Linked DNA regions of Homo sapiens. The protein of the gene in region 1 interacts with the protein of each later gene in a pairwise test. Each region holds a gene or a part of one and is shown in the gene's direction. Other genes may lie near its edges.

Region 1 (3,500 bases):
ACATTATCTTTATTGCAAAGTGCTCCTCCAGAAGAACCTCTATGCTGGATAAAGACAAACATTTGATTAAGGTTATGTAAGAGTGAAATCAGGATGGCTCACAACCCATTAGCCGTCATTTTCTTACTTTAATTGACAAAGAAATTGAAAAAATGAAAGAAGCATATGTTGTGCTTGAATGTGAAGAGTGCTAGACTAGAATCAAAGGCCTCTTAGATTTGGCTGTGTCATTTGGGCTCATGAAAACACCTCTGGAAATCTCTTTCAGTGCAAAGGAGCTGGACTAGTTGATCTCTCAGGTTTCTTCCAACTCTAAAATATCTCCAGTCTGTGCCTTGGAAACATCTTAGGTGAAAATCTAGGAACAGTTAACCTAATTTGCACCCTTAAAATTCTGCCATGAGCTGCTTACAACTCAAAACAAGTTTATCTTACTCAGTTACTAATTATAAACCATCCAGATTTCAGAGCTGTGAGTACTGGGTGAAGCATTGAAGGTATGCTTTTGAAGCCATTACATATGGCAGTTACTGAGCTGAAAGGATTAAATGCTGCAGCTTCCCCAGTTGCCCTTCCTCCATGAGAGCAGTGCCTGCCCCCAGCATTCTGTGGCACTTGGAAGACAAGACAGAGGCCAAATGCAGATTTTTACCCTGGGCTTCCCTCTACAGTGTGGAACTCAGGTTGTTTCTTCTTTCCTCCCTGAAATGACATGAGTTTGCAGCGGATGGTGAACTGAAGAAACCATAGGAGGCTCTGTCTTCTTGCCTGAATTTCAGTTGGAAGCTTGGAGATTTGGGGTTCAACAGAGATAAGGAAGTGTAAGCCTTCATCCCGTCTGGTGGTTGGCGATCACACACCGCTCTGTGCTGAGGCTAATGGCCATGATCAGAGTTGACCAAAAAAAAAAAAAAAAAAAAATACGGGTTGTCCAAGCAAATTGATTTCCATACCTATAGAGAGCATACCTTTCTTCATCAGTATTTTCTTCCATTCTTCCAAAAAATTACTTTGGGCTCTAACAGCCATTCCCGTGATCTTTACCTCTCCTTGGGGAATGCAGATAATTTGAATAGTGGTTTTAAGCTATTTTTCTTGGAATACAGAAGTTCTGATAAGCCCTTCAAAGACCCCTGAGGGCAAGAAGAGGGAAGGTAGTAGGCAGGGCTCAGGCCCTCTTTAACACAGACACATGTACATAAGTAACACATTTGCACCAACACTGGAAGGAAATTCAATATATTTTAAAATGACTTTAACTCCTAGTGATGGAACTATAGATATTTTTTTACAGCCCTTCCCTGAATGTTCACATGTGTTTTTTATATATATGTGTGTGTCACGTATTTGTATATGTGTATATACACATATATATAGAAACACGTACATATTTGTATGCATATTTGTACATATAGGTATATATGTATGTAATGTGTACATATTGGCACATGTGTGTGTTTGTATATGTATATATCAGTACATATAGATGTATGTATATATGTATATATTTTTTCCTCCAAAATAAACAATAAAGAATGTCTTCTTAGATTGCAAAAGTGAATTGTCTGAGTTCTGCTAAGGAAAAAGGACTTCTGCTTCTGCTGCCTGTGAGGACTGTGCTGTCAGCAGTCATGGCCCTTCAGGCCCTGCACCTCGAGGCAGAGCCCTCCCCCGGCCATGGCCAGCTCTCCTAACCAAGTGTCTCTTTCCCCCAGAATGGCTGCAGTCTGTCCAGGCCACCATGATCCTGTCGATCATCTTCAGCATTCTGTCTCTGTTCCTGTTCTTCTGCCAACTCTTCACCCTCACCAAGGGGGGCAGGTTTTACATCACTGGAATCTTCCAAATTCTTGCTGGTAAGTTGTGGATGGTAAAGTCCATGTGGAAGCGGGGTGCATCCAAGTCTGCGGAATGATTAGTTTAGTAGAAGGATGTGGCCTCAGAATGACTGATGTTCATGAGTCTCCCCACTGGATGCTTTCCATAAAGTGAGGGTGGGTGCTTGTATGTGTGGGTGTGTACCTGTATGTGTCTTAGAACTTGGGACTTAGAACTCTCCCCTTCTCCCTGGAATGAGATGCATATGAAAGAGAACTTAGAGGATCTGGAAGGAAGGTCCCCACCCAAGCCAGGCGTATCAACAGGAATGAAACTGCAATCTGGACACATAATCAGAGGTGAATACTGAGGCTATCTGTAGAGCAAAGGTCAGGCTTGAGAGCTGTTTCTGTAGATTACATTATGCCTCCAGAAAATGGCCCTGATGTGCTAAGAACTAGCAAAGTAGTTATCAGGTATGTGTCTTCCACCAATAGGTAGTGATGAAGCCACACTGACAAATTCTCACCTTCCTTGCTTCCAGTTCCTAGATTCTACTGGGCTTTGATTGACTGTTGTCATCCTCTGGTGTCTTCATTTTGACACTCTTGTGTCACATATTGTCATTTCCAAACATGGGGCTATGACAACACATGAAAACACATGAGAGGTCTCCTTAATCTCCTGCCTAAACTGTCTTCAAGTTCCCTCTTTAAATACGTTATTAATATGCATAGTGTGCAGAGTCCTAGAAACTTCTGTTACACAGGGTGACATCTTCCAACTTTGTCTCTGGATTCTGCCTAGCATCTTACATGCTTACATCTTACATCTTACATCTTACATCTTGCATTCTGCCTAGCATCTTACATTAGCTCTTACATGTCTGTCTGTTGACTTACTGTTGACTGAACCAGCAGGGCATTGGAGAGAAGTAAGAGCTAGATGTAGTGGTGGATTCTGTGGTCCAAATTCATAGATCACAAACTTCATATGTACCAGAGTATGTCTAGGTACTGGGAGATGTTCTCAATTCTGACCCTCTGAGAGGGCAAAGGATGTAGCATCTCTTCTCTGAGTTGGTTGTCAGAATGCCCATGGTACCATTTCACCACTCTGTCCCCAGGAGCAGTCATTGGAAGGTTGACGTAAATAGGGTTGTATGGGAAGACACAGCCCAAGGTTAGATGTTGGTGACCTTGTCTAGAAGACAGAGAGTTCCCCTTTCCTGAAAAAAGGAAGTAAATGATTAACCACTTCTCATTAAACACTCAAATACAACATTTCAATACTCATGGTTTTGAGATTTCAAAACCAGACAGTGCTTTGCTACTTACACATGTCTTATGACACCAAGCCAAGCTCCTGGATGGTTGCTGGCTCTGTTAAATGACTAATTATGCAAGGAGATATCATTTCTAGGTACGTTAAAGTGAAGAGTTACCCTTACTCAATTTTCAGTTGGAATAAAAACAACTGTAACATATTCTGGGGTTTCTTTTTTTTTTTCTCACTCGTTTTAGTTTGATATCAAATCAAATAATGATCATATCCATTGCATCAGTGGATATGCCCTCAAGATAATATGGATTTAGAACCAGAACTTTCATAATGTATTTCTATTGAAATGTTAGTTTCATAAGCGATGATTGGGTTTTCATGCCCATGTGTGAGATGTGCCT
Region 2 (2,671 bases), on another chromosome or scaffold:
ACCTGTTAATTCTAATAAACTTTAGGATTTTCTACATAATGTGATCACATTATCTGTGAATAATAACAATGTTACTTTTTTTTTTTTTTAAGATGGAGTCTTGCTGTGTCACCCAGGCTGGAGTGCAGTGGCATGATCTCAGCTCACTGCAACCTCTGCCTCCCGGGTTCAAGCAATTCTCCTGCCTCAGTCTCCCCAGTAGCTGGGATTACAGGCACCCACCACCGTGCCCAGCTAATTTTTGTATTTTTAGTAGAGACGGGGTTTCACCATGTTGGCCAGGCTGGTCTTGAACTCCTGACCTCGTGATCCGCCTGCCTCAGCCTCCCAAAGTGCTGGGATTACAGGCCTGAGCCACCATGCCTGGCCGACAATATTACTTCTTTCTTTCCTATCTGTGTGGCTTTTGCTTCCTTTTATTTTCGTATTGCACTGGCCAGGACCAGTACAACGTTGAATAGAAGTGGAGACAATGGACATCATGAAGACACCTTTAAACATTTCTTTTTGTCAGAAATAATCACTGGCTGTAATAGAGGCATAAACAAAATATGATGGAATGCAAACTATGTATGTGTGAACAGGGGTTAGCAGAAAAGGAAACAATTAAATCCTAGTCACTGGGGAAGATTCCTAAGGAGCAGAGTTTTTAAGCAGGTTGCTTGGCTCTCATTGGTCTGACCCTGGAAGGTGGCGGTTTCTGTAGTCTGTTTCCCTCACCCATGATATGCTGCTGGAGTTCCCTTCCCCATCCCCCCACAGCAGAGCTGCTGCGACTCCCTTTCTATCTGTTCCAGGATGGTGTCCTCTCCCTGCACGCAGGCAAGCTCACGGACTTGCTCCCGTATCCTGGGACTGAGCCTTGGGACTGCAGCCCTGTTTGCTGCTGGGGCCAACGTGGCACTCCTCCTTCCTAACTGGGATGTCACCTACCTGTTGAGGGGCCTCCTTGGCAGGCATGCCATGCTGGGAACTGGGCTCTGGGGAGGAGGCCTCATGGTAAGTGTCCGGGGTTCCCTGAACGTGAACTCTCAAAGAGACCCCGGCGGGGAGCAGGAAGGTGGCATGGGAAGAGTGTTTTGATTCCTTGCAGAAAAGTTTATTCTAACAAGCTGATCTTGGGTCTGTAGAAGCTCTAAGAGACAGGAAGCCTAGCTTGGGACCAGGCAGGTCGGGTGTGAAAGTTAACATCCACAGCGTTAGATCAGGCTCGTCATACAAATGTGGGTCCCCAGAGTCAGAGTCAACAGGACTGCGTTCATGTGAGCTGCCAGCCACTCTAACAGCTGTGGGCAGCACCTAGAAACAGCCGGCAAAGTCGATTTCCCCATCTCAACATTCTTCTCTCTCCTGCAGGTACTCACTGCAGCTATCCTCATCTCCTTGATGGGCTGGAGATACGGCTGCTTCAGTAAGAGTGGGCTCTGTCGAAGCGTAAGCACCAGATTCCACTCTTCTAACACCCAGAATGTCTCCACCTCTATTACTCTAGAGGCAGGGCGGTAAAGAGGCAATTTTGGTCTTGGGGCCTGAAGTCAGGTCCTCACTGTGACCCTCAGTAACGCTAAGTTCTTGGGCAAGTTGCTTCATCTTTCCAGTTTCAGGCTTTCATCTGTAAAATGGGAGCTGATCAAGTCAAGGGAGTAGTGCTTAGTGAAGCCCAGACGTCTGTACCAGTGTGAGGACCCAGACGTCTGTACCAGTGTGAGAAACTGTTACTCTCTTAGGGTGTTGGACAATATGGACATGAGTTATGACACTGTAATCATGTGTCATTGATGGAAATTTTCCTAGTTATTTTAACTAATATTTTCTTAGAACAGGAAAGTTTTCCAGAGATCATCTAATCACTAGATTCTAATCTAACCCCTCCATTTTACAGATAAACTGAGGCCCAGAATAAATTTCTACCTTATTAATTACAGCAGCAACTGTATAAACTTGAAAGATCTCAGTATATGTGTGTGTAACAAACACACACACACACACACACACACACTCGTTCTCAGACATGAATCTGTGGCCTTATGGTAACTCCACAGCCTGCTCTGATATCTGCAGCCCACATGTTGGGAAGCCCACTGACTCAGTTACATGTTAAAAAATCAAATATAGGCCAGGCGCGGTGGCTCACGCCTGTAATCCCAGCACTTTGGGAGGCCAAGATGGGCGGATCACCTGAGGTCAGGAGTTTGAGACCAGCCTGGCCAACATGGTGAAACCCCGTCTCTACCAAAAATACAAAAATTAGCTGGGCGTGGTGGTGGGCGCCTGTAATCCCAGCAACTCAGGAGGCTGAGGCAGGAAAATCTCTTGAACCCGGGAGGCGGAGCTTGCAGTGAGCCGAGATGGCGCCACTGCACTCCAGCCTGGGCGACAGAGCGAGACTCCGTTTCAAAATAAATAAATAAATAAGTACATAGATAAATAAATAAACACTTGCACATTTCATTCACTGTCTGTTCTCATTCTGGTTTTCCCCGTGGCACGTAGTTCTGACACTTGAATGTGCATGAGAATCACCTGGAGGGCTTTTGCCGGAACACGGATTGCTGGGCTCCCTCCCCAGAGTTTCTGATTCAGGATGGCGGGGAAGTTTTGCATTTCTAACAGGTTCTCAGGTGATGTGATGCGGCTGGGCAGGGACCCCATTTTGGGAACCACTGCCCTA
Region 3 (4,192 bases), on another chromosome or scaffold:
GTGTTTATGTGTTTTGCGTTACTGTGTGCTGGTGTATTACTCCGCGTATGTTGTTGTGTGGCCACGCATGTTGGAATATAACGTGTTGGGTTGTGTGGAGGTATTGTATGTCATGTTTGGGTGTGGCTCATGGCTCAGAGGTGATGGTGTATGTTGCGTTTGTTTTTTTGTTTTTGCTTGTTTTAGAGATAGGATCTTGCTATGTTGCCCAGGCTGGTCTCAAACCCCTGGGCTCCAGCAATCCTCCCACCTCAACCTCCCAAACTGCTGGGATTACAGGCATGAGCCACTGCACCCAGCCGTATGTTGCATTTGGGCACTGGGGTCTATGAAGGTCCAACCCCATCCCCTTCCCCCAGGGCATCATCCTGGATGTTGTCCTGTGTGGCCAGAATATACCAGAATCATCTTGCTTCAGGCATGTGCTTCTTGGGTTTCTCCGTGTGTCGCTGTACCTTGTAGGTCTCTGCATGCATCCACTCAGCTTGTCCTCTGACCATACATTTGAATCGCACCACACATCAGAGCATGCTGAATCAGTGCGTGTTTTGAATCATCACTGCGAGCACTTGTGTTCGAGTCAACAGGCGCCACAATGTATGTGCAATTCTCTAGCTCTGGGTGATTGGGGGCTACTATAGGTATGTCCCTAAATGTTGTGTGTCTACACGTATTGGGTTTCGTTCCAAGGGTGTGTAGTGTTTAGGAAACTGGGACTGCACAGTGTTTGTGTCGGTGTGTGGTGTGTGGCATCAGGGCGTCACTACTTTAATATATATTGTGTGTTTGTGTAACACCTGGTGTATGTTGTGTTTGTGTGGCCACAGTTGTGCATCGTCCTATTTGTGGTGTTTGGGTGTGGCTCTTTGTGTCAGAGAAAGTTGTGACAACTTTGAGTGTAATATTTGTGCCTGTGTGTGGACGGTGTTTGGGTGGCTGTGTGTGCCACGGGATACTGCCTGCTTGCTAAGTGCTGGTGTGTGTCACACCATGTGTGTGGTGTCTGGGTGTGGCTGTGGGTTTCAGAGCTTGCTGGGAGTTGTGAGTCACTCTGTGTAGGTTGTGTTGTGTGCCCTGGTGTGTTAGTCTCCGTCTTGGGCTGTGGAGTGTCCTTCGGTGTCTGGGTGTGGTGAGTAGAGGTGTGTGTCACAAAGTACAGACCATTGTGTGTGACAAAGCCCATCGTGTGTCTGTGTGTGTCTTTATCCACGTGGATGGACGTCTCTTTCTTGCTCTGCCCCAAGACACACCCTAGCCCCTCCTTATTCTCAAAAGGGGGAGCTGGGGAGCCTCCCCCTACCCTGGGGCCTCCCCTGCCCCTCCCCGCCCTGCCTGGCCGTCACCACTCCCCAGAGGGCACAGGGCTCTGCTGTGCCTCAGAGCAAAAGTCCCAGAGCCAGCAGAGCAGGCTGACGACCTGCAAGCCACAGTGGCTGCCCTGTGCGTGCTGCGAGGTGGGGGACCCTGGGCAGGAAGCTGGCTGAGCCCCAAGACCCCGGGGGCCATGGGCGGGGATCTGGTGCTTGGCCTGGGGGCCTTGAGACGCCGAAAGCGCTTGCTGGAGCAGGAGAAGTCTCTGGCCGGCTGGGCACTGGTGCTGGCAGGAACTGGCATTGGACTCATGGTGCTGCATGCAGAGATGCTGTGGTTCGGGGGGTGCTCGGTGAGTGGGGCATGGTGGCTGGGAGCTGGGACTCCTAGGTCTGAGGGAGGAGGGGCTGGGGGTCAGGACTCTTGGGTCTGAGGGAGGGGGGGCTGGGGGTCAGGACTCCTGGGTCTGAGGGAGGAGGGGCTGAGGGTCAGGACTCCTGGGTCTGAGGGAGGAGGGACTGGGGACTTGGACTCCTGGGTCTGAGGGAGGAGGGACTGAGGGCCTGGACTCCTGGGTCTGAGGGAGGAGGGGCTGGGGGTCAGGACTCCTGGGTCTGAGGGAGGAGGGGCTGGGGTCTGGACTCCTGGGTCTGAGGGAGGAGGGGCTGGGGGTCAGGACTCCTGGATCTGAGGGAGGAGAGGTTGGGGGCCTAGACTCTTGGGTCTGAGGGAGGAGGGGCTTTGGCTGGGACTCCTGGGTGCTCCCAGGAGACAGTTGCTGGGGTCCTTCTCTGCAAAAGGAAGGGAATATTTGTTTCAGTGTTTCAGTCTTTGAAGATGTTGCCATTAGACGGCCAGAGGTCCAGGACCCCTGGAGGCCAGAGGGTGGCTGATCAGACACTCAAGCCCCCCAAGAGCCAATAAGGGGAGAGGTAGCCCCAGGTTTGGTGAAGGGAGAGTGGAGGAAAGACAAAGTTCTTCCAGTAGGCGGCAGCTCTTTGGTCCTTGTCTAACCTCTAATGTTTACCCAGTGCCTTAGATGCAAAGGACAGAAAAAACTGCCTTGGGGGTGGGGATGGGAAATGGGAAACAAACCTCTCCCCCGACCTGCCTCCCCCCACCAACCCCAACCCAGTCTCCACTGTTAACAAGCTCAATTTCTCCCCAAATCTGCATGCTGATTAGTCAGGGAAATAGTGGAGAGGTAGGCTTACAGTGGCCTGGACTCCTAGGTACCAGGAGAGGAGGGGGCTGGGTCCTGGATTCCTGAGTCTTAAGGAGAAGGGGGTTTTGATTGCTTTTGGGGAAGAGGGGCTGACTCCGAAGATGAGTGGTGAGTAGGGAAGAAAGGGGAAAGTGGGGTCAGGGCAGGTCTCAGCAGGCTCCCGTCACATTCCAGCCCTGGTCAGGCCAGTGATGGGGCAGATCAAGGACAAGGGTTGGAATAAGTGGCTTGAGGGGAGAACAGACTTGCTCAACAGGAAAGGAGGGGCTGGAGACCTCTCTGGCAGAAGGGTTGTGGAACTGGGCTGGTAGGGCCAGATGCGGACACTGATATGAAGATTGGGTAGATTCCTGAGGGTCTGATGTTCCGACTTGGATCTGGAGGGGGTGGTGGGCAGCTCTGAAGTGACCAGGAGCCACATGGAGGGTCAGGCATGCAGCTTCCTCTGGCAGGCGGCGGGCACTGAGGGGGTGGGGCCGCCGAAGTCCATGCCAACAGGAAGCATGGCCGGGGCCTGCCCGCCGCTCCCACGCCGAAGCACCGCACCCAGAAGCCGAGGTGGGAACACAGTGACCCTGGCAGATGGGAAGAGACGGGGTCCATCCTACCCCACTTCACCCCTCTGCTTTCTCACCCCTCATTTCTTCCTTCCCTCCACCATGGCCAGGCCACTGCCTCTATCAGTGGGACCTTGGGGAAGCTGTTACAACCCTCTGAACCTCAGTTTCCCCATCTGTAAATTGGGGTGAGGGTTAAAATACATGACCCTAAGGGTCACCCTCCACCCTTTTTATTTTATGTAGAGATGGGACCTTGCTTTGTTGCCTAGGCTGGTCTTGAACTCCTGGACTCAGGCAATCCTCCTGCCTCAAAGTGCTGGGATTACAGGCCTGAGCCACAGCTCCTCAGTCCCCTTTTGAGGACTCTCTTAATAACATCCACCGCCCCTCACCACCTCCATCTCAATCTAATGAGCTCATTTCTGCAAAGGACCCAGACACCTGCTCCCCAGGGGGAGGGGCTGGCAGAGAGGCAGGTGCAAAACCCTAGGGAGTCCAAGGGAACTGGATAGAGATATCCAAAAGCACCAGGTGGGGTGGAGGAGGAGGGATGGGGAGAGGTACAGAGAGAGACAGAGACACAGAGATACATGGAGAGAAAAAGAGAGATGGAGACAAAAATGCAGAAAGATAGAGAAGTACAGCTAAAGAGAAAGACAAATAGGGCTATCAAGCTACTGAGAAATCCACCAGTGAGAGATACACACACAGCGTTAGAAAAGACAATAGAGGGCCGGGCGCGGTGGCTCACGCCTGTAATCCCAGCACTTTGGGAGGCCGAGGTGGGCGGATCACAAGGTCAGGACATCGAGACCATCCTGGCTAACACAGTGAAACCCCATCTCTACTAAAAACACAAAAAATTAGCCAGGCATGGCGGCGTGTGCCTGTAGTCCCAGCTACTCAGGAGGCTGAGGCAGGAGAATGGTGTGAACCCAGGAGGCGGAGCTTGCAATGAGCCAAGATCGTGCCACTGCACTCCAGCCTGGGTGACAGAGCAAGACTCCGTCTCAAAAAAAAAAAGAGACAATAGAAACAAAGACCCTCAAAACACATAGAAAGACAGCAACAACCATCCCTAGAGACAGGGAAATTC
Region 4 (2,819 bases), on another chromosome or scaffold:
TGAAGATAACAGGATTAAGAGATTAGAGTAAAAACAGGCATAAGAAATTATAAAAGTATTATTTGGGAACTGATAAATGTCCATGAAATCTTCACAATTCATGTTTCTCTGCCGCGGCTCCAGCCAGTCCCACCATTTGGGGTCCCCGACTTCCTGCAACATTGCAAGTCATCTTGTTTTAAATTGCTAGATGATCTGTGCAGAGCATGTACTAGGAACAGTCTAGAGGAGGGATCTGGAGGGACTCATTTCCCTGGCAGCTGAGATGGAGATAGGGGTAAATGGGGGTATGAGATAGGTTTAGGGAAATTTAACAGAAAGCCACATCTGTATTGTACTTTACAGGTTCCAAACTGTTTGTATACACATTCTTACCAAATATTCACAATAACTCTGGGGTTAGATATTTTAACCCCATTATCAAGATAAGAGTCTGGAGGGCCAGGCGCGGTGGCTCATGCCTGTAATCCCAGCACTTTGGGAGGGTGAGGCAGGCAGATCATGAGGTCAGGAGATCGAGACCATCCTGGCTCACACGGTGAAACCCCGTCTCTACTAAAAAAATACAAAAAATTAGCCGGGCGTGGTGGCGGGTGCCTGTAGCTACTTGGGAGGCTGAGGCAGGAGAATGGCGTGAACCAGGGAGGCGGAGCTTGCAGTGAGCGAAGATGCGCCACTGCACTCCAGCCTGGGCGACAGAGCAAGACTCCGTCTCAAAAAAAAAAAAAAAAGTCTGGAGGCCAGAGGGGTAAAGTTCTTTGCTCAACATCCTGCAGACCCAAATCCAGGAATTCTGATTTCATATTCTGTGCTCTTTCCCATTGGAGACAAGAGCCATTAACAATATAAAGAAATTCTCAGAGTGCCTCTATTTCCTGGAGCATTAGAAAGTAGAAAATAAATAAAGGTGGGGAAAGAGTAAAAAAGAAGGAAGTAGGAAAGAAATGGAAGAGGGAGAAAGAAAAACAAAGAGGCCATGGGGGTGATAAGGCAAGCACAACATTTATAACACACTAAGTATCTAGCTCAGTGCTATGCATAAGATATGTCCAATATGTGTATCTGAATGGTTTTTAAAATGTATTAATTCATATCTAATAACTATATATTTTAGTTATACAGTAATTTCTCAAACATACAAATGCTTGTAGCTTTCTTCCTTGGACCCAGTATGTAGATTTGGCCATGGGTCTCTCTCAGTTTCCTTACAGATTCTAGCATATGGATTCAGTGCCTGGAACCTGCACATGTTGTGGAGTGGAACATCATTTTATTTTCCATTCTCATAACCCTCAGTGGGCTTCAAGTGATCATCTGCCTCATCAGAGTAGTCATGCAACTATCCAAGATACTGTGTGGAAGCTATTCAGTGATCTTCCAGGTAACAGATTCTCATGGGCACCTGTAGCTCATCCATATTTCCCCCACTTCCCAGGATTCAATGAGGCTTTTTGAAAAGACTCTAGAATTCCATCACTTTCCCCCCATTTCTATTGCCCTCATCTTTATTCAAGCTCTAATATCTCAATTTTTTCTGATATCCCAATGTGTCTTGGCTTATCTATAAGGGTTGAATCAACTCAGTAATTGTAAAATCTGCATTTCTTGTTGTATGGTAAGGCTTCATAAGTGTTTTGAATGAGCAAAGTTTTAGTGTTCTACATAGAGATAACTCAAAGCATGATGAAATTTTACCATTTATCAAGAATTTCCCTGTTCATAAGTTAAGCAAAGGCTCAGAACCTTATCTCATTGAAATAACTTCTCTTCTGAATGCTGCTACATTCAACTAATGAACCTTTATCTCGAGTGCATAGGAGTGCTTTTGAAGAAGAAGGGAAATATGTATTTATCCCATTGAAACTACTTCTACTTCGTCTGCTAAAATACTAATGTTAATTTAGTTATGGTTGAAACTGCTATCAAGAAGTCCAGAGTGAAGAAAAATTATGAATTTAGATGGCTTGTATTTTGTTTAACAACAGAATGTGTAATACCTTTCCTAGCAATTTCTAAGAGATGTTTTTTCTGTTCTATCATATTTTGAATATGAAATATAAGTTTAAGTTGCTATCTGGATTACGGATTACTAATCAAGCCAAGTTTATAACTTTAATCACTTTGTTTTTCCTTTTTTCCTATAGCCTGGAATCATTTGAATAAGGACAAAATGTTTTCCATTATCAAGACATGGCCATCTATCTAAATATTATATCAACTGTGTAGACTTGAGGGCAATATTGAAATGATGGTGCTTTCTGCATTTGGTGTTTATTTGTAAAAAATTTGCAGTCCTCACTGCACATGCAAGTATACCACCCTTCCATTTAGTATGTTTTTTAAGTAATATGCATCAGAAACTTCAGAAATACTTCTGCCCTTTGATCAAACAAATCCATTTCCAAGAATCTGTACTAGGGAAGTAAATAAGAATATGAGAGAAACCTTTATGCAAATATGTATATTGCAACATTATTTAATATTCTGGAAAATTGGAAACACCCCAAAATTCTAAACTCAGAGGAAGGATTAAGTAAAGAGTGGTACATACTGTAAATGTTTTCTGATATTAAAAAAAAAATTAAATAAAAAATAAAGAGTACTACATGGTTGTAAAATTACAGTCATTACAAATGATGTTTTTAAAATTATGAATAATGCTACATCAAAAAGCAGGTTACAAATTCATGTTTACTATATAACTATTTAAAGCAAATGAAACACTAATAGTCAAAGTTTAGGATGAAAACTAAATCTAAAAGGAAATATAACAAAATGCCAATTATGCTTGGTTTGGGGCATTGATGACCCTTCTTCCC
Region 5 (3,500 bases), on another chromosome or scaffold:
ATTGGGTTGATACAGTGGCTCTGGAATTTAGTAATTAGGAAATATTGCAATTAGAGACGGAATTTACCCATTACTATTCCATGCATCTTAATACAGGGTGTAAGTGGTTGTAACTGTGAGCTTGGCACTAGGCATATGGGAAAATAGAAGTGAATGGAGAAATGGGATGAAGGAAGGAGGGGATGGGAGGAGCTTAACCCTTTCCATACCCGAGTAGACTGAAGGAGCAGCCTGGGGGTGATGCAGGGTTAGGGCGAGCCCAGCAGCCCACCGCATTTGTAAGAGGTGACCGAGGCAAAAATCACAGGCTCCCTCCGGACCTTCTGCTTCTTTAGCTCAGGTAGGATCAGATGCAGGGCTTGGCAGGGGTTAGGAGAGTGGTGATGGAGGCCAAGAGGGAGAGGCTGCAGGGGAGAAGGGCTCTTCTCCCAGTTTCCTGCTCAGCTGTGGAGAAACAGAAAAGAGTTGTAACCACCTGCAGTAGTGTGCATGTGAGAGACAGGAGAGGGTACCTTGTACCTTCATCTCTCCCTCCCCACTTGTTCCTTCCCCCGCCCTTCTTTTTACTCCCTTCCTCACTCCTACTCTTAGCTCCATTTTCCTCTGAAGTCAAATGAGGCATTTGTGGTATTGCAGGGCTGAGCTGGGTAGGGCCATGTGTATGGGCGGCGGAGGGAGGGGAGCGGTGGCCGGGGGTGGGAGGGTGGTAGCGTCAAAGAGGTGGTGCTCATTTTTTCCTTTCCAGACCAGAAATGCCTTCCCCAAGGTCAGCCAGTGCTCTGAGCTCCAAAGACCTTCCCAGAGAACCTCTGCTCCCTAAGGGCTGGGTGGTTTGAGAGAAATCTCTTTTCCTCACCATTGATTCCAGTCTGAACTAATGATCCAGATGTGTTGTGCATGTCCTTCCTCTTCTACAAAGTGACTCGGGAAGCAGTTTTTATGCTATTTGTAGAAAGGAAGCATTTTCTGGAGCGGGGCCTTCTCTGCTTCTGCTACACCTTAACTCCCTAGATTAGAGGAGAGCTGTGAGGCCGCAAGGAGGGGGGCCTGGAGAGGGGCTTGGGCTGAGGGTGGTAGAGGTCTCTGAGGACTGTCCTTGTCTTCTGCCTCCTGTGTTTATTTGGAGAAAAGCCCATTTAACAAATGTACAGGTCTTTACCTCTATCCCTCTTGGGGCTGTCTGCCATGTATCTTTCATTGTACCAACTCAGATGGACCAAGTGACGGCCCGGTCATAGGGCCTAAGATGGGATGTTAGGAGACGGGGTGGAGGCCTGCAAGCAGGAGGAGAGGGGACCACCCAGGCAACCCTCTAGAAGTGCAGGAAGGATGAACAAGAACCTATTGGTTAAGTGCTCTTGGGTCTTGGAGGGAAGCAGACCTAGGACTGAAATCCATCCTCACCACTAGGAGCTAAGAAGAGTTACAGGTAAACCCCAGGAAACTCAAGGGTGGCTGTGGCTAGGATCAGTGTTAGCGGGAAGCATGGAGTTAATTGGCTGTGGGAGGGCTCCCTCTCCCAGTTTGACTCTCCCACGAGTAGGAAAAGGCATCACTTTAATAAGGCTGCCCTGTTTCCAAATCAATCCTGGCATTGCAGGAGGCGAAGGGGGAAGCACAGCTGAGAAATTGGATTAGCTCTTTGATGCTGGGAACTGTGCTGGTTGCTGCTGCTGCAGCTGCAGGAGGCAGGGAAGCATCAAGAACTGAGCCTGCCATTGGCAAGCCAGCCCCAGACGTCTGAGGCTTCCCAGGGAGGCGTGCTCCACCCCCATTAGGTCTCCTACTGGTAGAGGGTGGCAGGGGTGCCCTGGGGCAGACAGTAATAGAAGCCCAGGTCCTCACCACTGCAAACCTGGAGGTGTCTTCGTGCCTCCCCTGGAGTAGATCGTGAGCCCCAAAGACCTCAGGAGGTGAGGCAATGGGGAAGGGGCAGAGGAGAGGCCCCCACAGCATGTTCTGTAGGGCATAACTGAAGCAGCGTGTGTGTGGCTGGGAGTCAGATGGCCTAGGTCAAACCAAGACTGCCACTTCCTGCCTGTGTGACCCTGGGCAAGTTACTTAAACTTTCTGAACTTCGGGGTCCTCATCTGAAAATGGAGACAGTAACACACAGGGAACAGGCCCTTGTGAAGTTTACCTTATAGCAGTAATCAAGATGGGGGCCACGGGTCCCTGGGAGTCCCTAAGAATTTTCAGGGGGGTCCATAAGGTCAAAGCAGTTTCCATGATGGCAATAAAGTTATTTGCCATTCCCATGCTTGACATTGATGGTGCTAAAGCAGTGGTGGGTGAAGCTGCTGGCACCTTACCATGAATCAAGGTAATAGTATCACACTGCACCCGTCTTTGTGTTCTTCCACACTACACACCCGCTAAGCAAAGTAATTGGTAAATAATGAAATGCCATTTTCAGTTAAGAATGTCTTCTTTTCATGAAGCAGCAAAGATTATAATTATATTGAAGCTTGATTCTGGAGTGCACATCTTTTTAATATTCTCTGTGATGGAATGAGAAGTACACATAAAGCACTTCTGCTTCTTACAGAAATATTACACAATAATTTCTCAAGCAACTGAACAGTGCCCATCACCTGTGCATCTGTTTGAGTTGCAGGCTGAACTAGCCATTTTTCCATGGGATACCATTTTATCTGAAAGAACAACCAACAAACTCCAGTTATTCAGACTTGGGTGTTGAGCAGGCATTTTTGCAAAAATGAACGAAGTGAGCTCGTCACTTCCAGAAAAACAACTGGCAGTATTTGTGGCCAATGATAAAATTTAAGCTTTCAAGCAAAAATTAGAATTTTGGAAAACTCACACATATTACTATGAAAAGGACTTTTGTGATAAGATCAGTGGGAATAGTAATAGATGTGATTTGTTAATATTGTTTAATGAAATTCATCAATATTTGAAAGATCTTCACAATTCGGCAAGCCAATATCTTCGAAATGATAAATGAATGATGTCACAAAATCATGCACAGAGGCAAACAAGCATTCCAAGTGCAAGGTTTCAGATTCCCCACTGCAGCCAGTCTTTAAGAAGCTACCACTTGGGGAGCAGTGATGTCATATCAAAGAAAAATATCCACAATGATCTGAAAAGGCTTTATTAAATACCCCTCCCCTTTCCAGTTACATATCTGAGTGAGGTTGGATTTTCTTTCATCTTTCAATCAAAGTAATGTATTGCAGACAGACCGAACACCGAAGTTGATATAAAACTCTAGCTACCTTCTAGTAAACCACACATTAAAGAGATTTGCAATGATGTGAAACAAGGCCTCCTTCTTACTAGATATTTTACTAGAGAAAACGTCTACTATATATTTTTTTGGTCTTGGAAAATATAGTTACTTATTAAATATGTTGTATTAACAGGTAATGAGTTACTATTGTATTTTGAGCTAATTTAGAAATTTCTCAGTTTTAATTTTGAATATGGTAACTATGGATGGATCTAACTTACATAAGAAAACGCTCTTGGAGGGT
Region 6 (2,734 bases), on another chromosome or scaffold:
CAGGCAGCCTCACAGTCTCTGAGCCCTCAGACGGTCATGCATCTGTCTGTGACACACACATCTGTCTTCGTCTTTTTTTGTTTGTGTGTTTGTTTGTTTGTTTGCTTGTTTGTTTTGAGAGACAGAGTCTCACTCTGTCGCCCAGGCTGGAGTGCAGTGGTGCGATCTCGGCTCACTGCAAGCTCTGCCTCCCGGGTTCACACCATTCTCCTGCCTCAGCCTCCCAAGTAGCTGGGACTACAGGCGCCTGCCACCATGCCTGGCTAATTTTTTGTATTTTTTAGTAGAGACGGGGTTTCACCGTGTTAGCCAGGATGGTCTCGATCTCGTGACCTCGTGATACGCCCGCCTCGGCCTCCCAAAGTGCTGGGATTACAGGCGTGAGCCACCGCACCCGGCCTTGTCTTGGTCTTTTAAGGAGTGGAGTTGGCCAAAGAATAGGAGATGTTGATTCTGATTAAAATATGCCTGTGGAGGAATCACAGGTGCCACACAGGGCAATCTTCTCTCTGTTTTCTGCACAGCGGAGCTGCCCAAGCCCTCCATCTCCAGCAACAACTCCAACCCCAAGGAGGACAAGGATGCTGTGGCCTTCACCTGTGAACCTGAGATTCACAGCACAACCTGCCTGTAGTGGGTAAATGGTCAGAGCCTCCCGGTCAGTTCCAGGCTGCAGCTGTCCAATGACAAGAGGACCCTCACTCTACTCAGTGTCACAAGGAATGACACAGGACCCTATGAGTGTGAAATACCGAACCCAGTGGGTGCCAGCTACAGTGACCCAGTCACGCTGAATGTCCTCTGTATCTTCTGTTCCTCTGTGGCCCAGGCTTCCAGCCCAAATCCACACAGCCAGAGGCCAGGCCTCTCAGTCCCTCTCAAGTCCAGGGACTCAGACTCTCACCCAGGCTGGCCATCACTTCCTGTCCCAAGCAAACCTGGGCAGACCCAGCCTTGACCAAGAATAGGAGGGGAGAGGCTGCTCCTGTCCTGGGAGGCTCAGGGTCCACAGCCTGTGATGGGAGAAACAGGTGAATATCTCAGACCCAGACTCAGTGGACAGATTGGGTTTCGTTAGGACTTCAAGGTTGTGACTTGGCTCACAGGGACACTGTGGCTCTTCCACAGACCAGGAGCTTCCCCTTCCCTTTGATGATATCATCTATGACTTTATTCTCGCTACTCCAGATGGACCGGGCATTCCCACCATTTCCCCCCCAGACTCCTATTACCATCCAGGGGCAAATCTCAACCTCTCCTGCCACATGGCCTCTAACCCACCTGCACAGTACTCCTGGTTTGTCAGTGGAATGCTCCAGCAACACACACAAAAGCTCTTTATCCCCAACATCGCAGTGGATAAGAGTGGATCCTATGCTTGCCTCGCCCATAACTCAGCCACTGGCCTCAGTACAATCACAGTCAAGACAATCACAGTCTCTGCTAAGTGGATCCCTGGAGCATAGGCCCTGAGCCCTGGGTAAAGCCACTCAGTTTTCTGAAAGAGCCTAGAAGTTTATTTCCCAGCCCATGTCTTGGACACAAGCAAATCCCAAACTCTACCCTGAGCCCTCTCACTCCACCTCTGCAGGACCCCTCCTCCCCTTGTTGTTCTGATTTCTCACAGCTGACCTTGGGGCCAGCCTGGAATGTTGTACAAATTTTGTTTTATCACTTACGAGTTCTGTGACCTTCCTTGACTTACTGAGGTGCTTTAAGTCTCAGATTCTAACTCTGCAGCTGGGGGTGATGCCCCCTCTCCCTCAAGGTGATGTAAGGATGAGATGAGTTGTAGGTAGGTTGGTGCCCACTGGAACTGGCACATGGAAGGCCCCTGAAAACAGTCAATGAACATCATCCCTGCTTATCAGCATTGAGTTGATGCCAAGGGCCTGCCCTTTGTGAGTGTCATGGGATGGAAAAGGAGAAACAGAGGGAAGAGGCATGATGCGAGAGGAAGGAGGGACTAAAAGGCACAGGAGCAGGGTGAGGTGCAGGCACCTCTGGGACAATGTATGAGTTGGTGCCGCCCAGTGTGTCAAGCCTGCAGAAAATGGTGCCACCATGGAAAGCAAGGGAATCTGTGATGAGGACAACACAAGAGACTACACTCAGGCCCCATGGCATCTCCTTCTTCCCTGACTGCACACCTTCCCTGCAAGGCCCCTGTGGTTTCCTCTGGGATAGACTTGGGCCTCTATCCCCTTTGCCTTCTTCTTTCTGCAGAAGAAAATGCCCCAGGCCTTCCTGTGGGGGCCGTCGCCGGCATCGTGACCGGGGTCCTGGTCGGAGTGGCGCTGGTGGCCGCGCTGGTGTGTTTCCTGCTCCTTGCCAAAACTGGAAGGTACCACAGCTTTTTCCCATCCTTCTCCCACCCCCTAGGCTGACTCCAGGCCAAAAGAAAGGAGACCTTGTCCTGTATTCAGGGCCAGGCTCTCCACGGCCTCCCAAGTCCCCAGGGATCCTTCCCTCTTATTCCACGGCTCCTCCCTCGTCAGCTCCTGACCCTGGGTTGCTGCCTCAACAGCTTCCTCCTCTGTGAATTTGGCCCAATTAAGGCCCCACCCCTGAGTGTGGCCCTAGTTCCCTCACACAGCAAAGCCACAGCTGCCTGGAGGGAGGGAGAGAAGGAGGGAGGGAAGTAGGGAGGGAGGGAGGGAGGGCGTGCTCTGTACTTGGTACCTCCCATTGTTCATTGAATCCATCCACACAGTGAGGGGGATTTGCAGGCTCC
Region 7 (3,500 bases), on another chromosome or scaffold:
GATAGGTGTTTTGCAAATATTTCTTCCACTCTCTAGGTTGTCTTTTCATTGTTTTAACTGTGCCTTTCACAAAGCAAAAGTTTTTAACTTTGATGAAATCCAGTTTATTCTTTTTTTTTTTTCTATCGTGGATTATGCTTTTGGTGTTTAATCTCAGAAGTAATCACCAAACCCAAAGTCAGCTAGATCTTCTCCTGTGTATTTTAAGAGTTTTAAAGTTTTGCATTTTACAGTTAGGTCTGTGATTCATTTTCAGGTAATTTGAGTTACTTGTGATCTTGAGTGTCTTTTGATTTACAGGTTTCCCATTTTCTTTTTGTTTTTTTTCCCCCTGTAATTGTGGTTTGAAGAAAGTCAGTTTATGTCCTATTGAGTTTCTCCTAGACTGGATTTTGCCCTTTGCATCCTGTGATGTTGCTGGAAATAGTCCTCCTTCTCTTCTTTAAAGGAGCAGCTCCATCTAGAAGCTTGGTCAGATTCTGGTTCAATTTTTATGGCAAGAAAACTTTCTGGGTAGTTGGTGCGTATGTCTGTGTGCATAGGCTGCAAACATCTGCTTGCTTCTGTGCTGTTCTGTGGACCACTGGATTCGGGTGTTGTTATGAAGTTCTTTGTCAGGTTTTCTCCTGATGGTTTTAGCGGATAGCAATGGCCATTGCCTTAATCTTTTTTTTTTTTTTTTTTTTTTGAGATGGAGTCTTGCTCTGTCGCCCAGGCTGGAGTGCAGTGTTGCGATCTTGGCTCACTGCAACCTCCGCCTCCCAGGTTCAAGCGATTCTGCTGCCTCAGCCTCCTGAGTAGCTGGGATTACAGGTGCGTGCCACCATGCCTGGCTAATTTTTGTATTTTTTTTGGAGAGATGGGGTTTCACTATGTTGGGCAGGCTGGTCTTGAACTCCTGACCTTGTGATCCACTTGCCTCGGCCTCCCAAAGTGCTGGGATTACAGGCGTGAGCCACCGCGCCCGGGCTTTTTTTTTTTTTTTTTTGAGAGGGCGTCTCCCTCTGTCACCAGGCTGGAGTGCAGTAGCACGATCTCGGCTCACTGCAACCTCCACCTCCCAGGTTCAAGTGATCCTCCTGCCTCAGCCTCCTTAGTAGCTGGAATTACAGGCACACACCACCACACCCAGCTAATTTTTGTATTTTTAGTACAGACAGGGTTTCACCATGTTGGCCAGGATGGATTTTTTTTTTTTTTTTGAGATGGAGTTTCACTCTTATTGCGCAGGCTGGAGTACAATGGCATGATCTCAGCTCACTGCAACCTCCGCCTCCTGGATTCAAGTGATCCTCCTGCCTCAGCCTCCAGGGTAGCTGGGACTACAGGCATGCGCTGCCATGCCTAGCTAATTTTTATATGTTTAGTAGAGATGGAGTTTCACCATGTTGGCGAAGCTGGTCTTGAACTCCTGACATCAGGTGATCTGCCTGCCTCAGCCTCCCAAAGTGCTGGGGTTACAGACGTGAGCCACCATGCCTGACCTGGTTTGGTATTTTGTTAAACAGAACCAAAGGCCAGACAGATTTTCTGTGCTTGGATTTAGTCTATATTGGAAGTACCTTGAGGCTGAAGGCACGTGGCTGTGAGCACGACACAGGAAGATACAGATTTGCTGAAAAGAATAGTGAACATAAAGCAGAAGCCAGAACTGCTGATGGCCGTCAGCCCGGTCCCTCCATTCCACCTGACGGTGCAGCAAATTCTGCCGACTTGCCAGAGAGGCAGCTCCAGGAGGGAGAAGCTGCTGTGCTTTCCTGAAGCAGCAAATGTGTTTTCTGCTGAGCAACCAAAACCAAGATCCCAGCCAAGACCCACGATTGCCCAGATCCACCCTCCCTGAAAGGAACTTGGGCAGTAATGCCCAGTCCTAGGCAGTTGCTGAAATCTTTGCCTTTTATTTTCTTTTTTGAGCTGGGATCTTGCTCTGTCGCCCAGACTGGAGTGGAGTGCAGTGGCACAGTCATAGCGCCATGTAGCCTTGGACTCCCAAGCTCAAGAGATCCTCCCGCCTCAGCCTTACAAGTAGCTGGGACTATAGGTACACGTCACCATGCCTGGCTAACATTTTCTATTTTTTGTAGAGATGGGGTATTTGTTGCCAAGGCTGGTCTAGAAGTCCTGGGCTTGGCCGGGCACAGTGACTCACGCCTGTAATCCCAGCACTTTGGGAGGCTGAGGCAGGCGGATCACGAGGTCAGGAGTTCAAGACCAGCCTGGCCAATATGGTGAAACCCTGTTTCTACTAAAAATAGAAAAATTAGCTGGGCGTGGTGGTGTGCGCCTGTAATCCCAGCTACTCTGGAGGCTGAGGCAGGAGAATCGCTTGACCCCAGGAGGCGGAGGTTGCAGTGACCCAAGATTGTGCCACTGTACTCCAGCCTGGGCGACAGAGACTCCGTCTCAAAAAAAAAAAAAAAAAAAGGAAAAGAAAGCCTGGGCGTAAGGATCCTTCTGCCTTGACCTCCCAAGTGCTGGAATTGCAGGCATGAGCCATTGCACCCGGCTTTTTTTTTTTTTTTTCTTTGAGACAGGCACTTGCACTGTTGCCTAGACTGGAGTGCAGTAGCGGGATTAGAGTTCACTGCAGCCTCAACCTCCCAAGCTCAAGCGATCCTCCCACCTTACCCTTCCTGAATGGATGGGGCCACAGGTGTGTACCATCACACGTAGTTAATTTTTAAACTTTTTCAGAGACGGGGTTTCTCCATGTTGCCCAGGCTGGTCTTGAACTCCCGGCTTCCAGTGATCCTCCTGCCTCAGCTTCCCAAAGTGCTGGGATTACAGGCATGAACCACTGCACCCAACCTTTTTTCATTCCCTTAACGAAACCTTTGGATGAACAAAAATTCTTAATTTCAGTGAAGTTCAGTTTATCGACTTCAATTTATACATTTTATAAAGTTTATGAATTTTTTTTTTTTTTTTTAGACGGAGTCTTGCTCTGTCGCCCAGGCTGGAGTGCAGTGGCTATACCCAGGTGTGATCATAACTCACTCCAGCCTCAAACTCCTGGGCTCAAGGATTCCTCCTGCCTCAGTCTCCAGAGTAGGTGGGACCACAGGCACATCCACCACACTGGCTAATTTTTTTTATTTGTAGTGGAGACTACGTCTTACTGTTTGCCCAGGCTGGTCTCCAACTCCTGGGTTCAAGTGATCCACCTCATTCTCCCAAAGCGCTGGGATTGTAGGAGTGAGCCACTGCACCCAGCCTGTCTGCTAATATTATGTTTAAGAGTTCTGAATCTTTTTTTAAATTTTTTAAAATTTTTAATTTTTTATTTTTTTTGAGACAGTCTTGCTCTGTCGCCCAGGCTGGAGTGCAATGGTGCAATCTTGGCTCAATGCAACCTCCGCCTTCTGGGTTCAAGCGATTCTCCTGCCTTAGCCTCCTGAGTAGCTGGGATTACAGGTACACGCCACCATGCCTGGCTAATTTTTTTGTATTTTTAGTAGAGATGGGATTTCACCATGTTGGTCAGGCTGGTCTCGACCTCC

Evidence for each region.
Region 2: the proteins of PMP22 (region 1) and TM4SF19 interact in binary tests that used the Homo sapiens proteins (3 or more experiments, as listed by UniProt).
Region 3: the proteins of PMP22 (region 1) and KCNN4 interact in binary tests that used the Homo sapiens proteins (3 or more experiments, as listed by UniProt).
Region 4: the proteins of PMP22 (region 1) and TM4SF18 interact in binary tests that used the Homo sapiens proteins (3 or more experiments, as listed by UniProt).
Region 5: the proteins of PMP22 (region 1) and SYT2 interact in binary tests that used the Homo sapiens proteins (3 or more experiments, as listed by UniProt).
Region 6: the proteins of PMP22 (region 1) and CEACAM3 interact in binary tests that used the Homo sapiens proteins (3 or more experiments, as listed by UniProt).
Region 7: the proteins of PMP22 (region 1) and FCGRT interact in binary tests that used the Homo sapiens proteins (3 or more experiments, as listed by UniProt).

The regions. Positions count from the first base shown.
Region 1 is NC_000017.11:15,237,827-15,241,326, reverse strand, and holds part of PMP22 (peripheral myelin protein 22), read left to right. Parts: intron 1-1,715; coding exon 1,716-1,856; intron 1,857-3,445; exon of another isoform or gene 3,446-3,500. UniProt on the Homo sapiens protein: Might be involved in growth regulation, and in myelinization in the peripheral nervous system.
Region 2 is NC_000003.12:196,325,718-196,328,388, reverse strand, and holds part of TM4SF19 (transmembrane 4 L6 family member 19), read left to right. Parts: intron 1-797; 5' UTR 798-798; coding exon 799-999; intron 1,000-1,356; coding exon 1,357-1,434; intron 1,435-2,671. UniProt on the Homo sapiens protein: Negatively regulates vacuolar (H+)-ATPase (V-ATPase) activity by interacting with members of V-ATPase V0 complex and hence inhibiting V1-V0 complex assembly. Required for multinucleation during osteoclast differentiation.
Region 3 is NC_000019.10:43,778,174-43,782,365, reverse strand, and holds the start of KCNN4 (intermediate conductance calcium-activated potassium channel protein 4), read left to right. Parts: upstream 1-1,392; 5' UTR 1,393-1,504; coding exon 1,505-1,663; intron 1,664-4,192. UniProt on the Homo sapiens protein: Intermediate conductance calcium-activated potassium channel that mediates the voltage-independent transmembrane transfer of potassium across the cell membrane through a constitutive interaction with calmodulin which binds the intracellular calcium allowing its opening.
Region 4 is NC_000003.12:149,320,818-149,323,636, reverse strand, and holds part of TM4SF18 (transmembrane 4 L6 family member 18), read left to right. Parts: intron 1-1,200; coding exon 1,201-1,381; intron 1,382-2,144; coding exon 2,145-2,159; 3' UTR 2,160-2,819.
Region 5 is NC_000001.11:202,700,455-202,703,954, reverse strand, and holds part of SYT2 (synaptotagmin-2), read left to right. Parts: intron 1-3,500. UniProt on the Homo sapiens protein: Exhibits calcium-dependent phospholipid and inositol polyphosphate binding properties. May have a regulatory role in the membrane interactions during trafficking of synaptic vesicles at the active zone of the synapse.
Region 6 is NC_000019.10:41,806,587-41,809,320, forward strand, and holds part of CEACAM3 (cell adhesion molecule CEACAM3 isoform 1 precursor), read left to right. Parts: intron 1-524; exon of another isoform or gene 525-1,031; intron 1,032-1,188; exon of another isoform or gene 1,189-1,447; intron 1,448-2,226; coding exon 2,227-2,344; intron 2,345-2,734.
Region 7 is NC_000019.10:49,519,161-49,522,660, forward strand, and holds part of FCGRT (IgG receptor FcRn large subunit p51 isoform 1 precursor), read left to right. Parts: intron 1-2,534; coding exon of another isoform or gene 2,535-2,653; intron 2,654-3,500. UniProt on the Homo sapiens protein: Cell surface receptor that transfers passive humoral immunity from the mother to the newborn. Binds to the Fc region of monomeric immunoglobulin gamma and mediates its selective uptake from milk.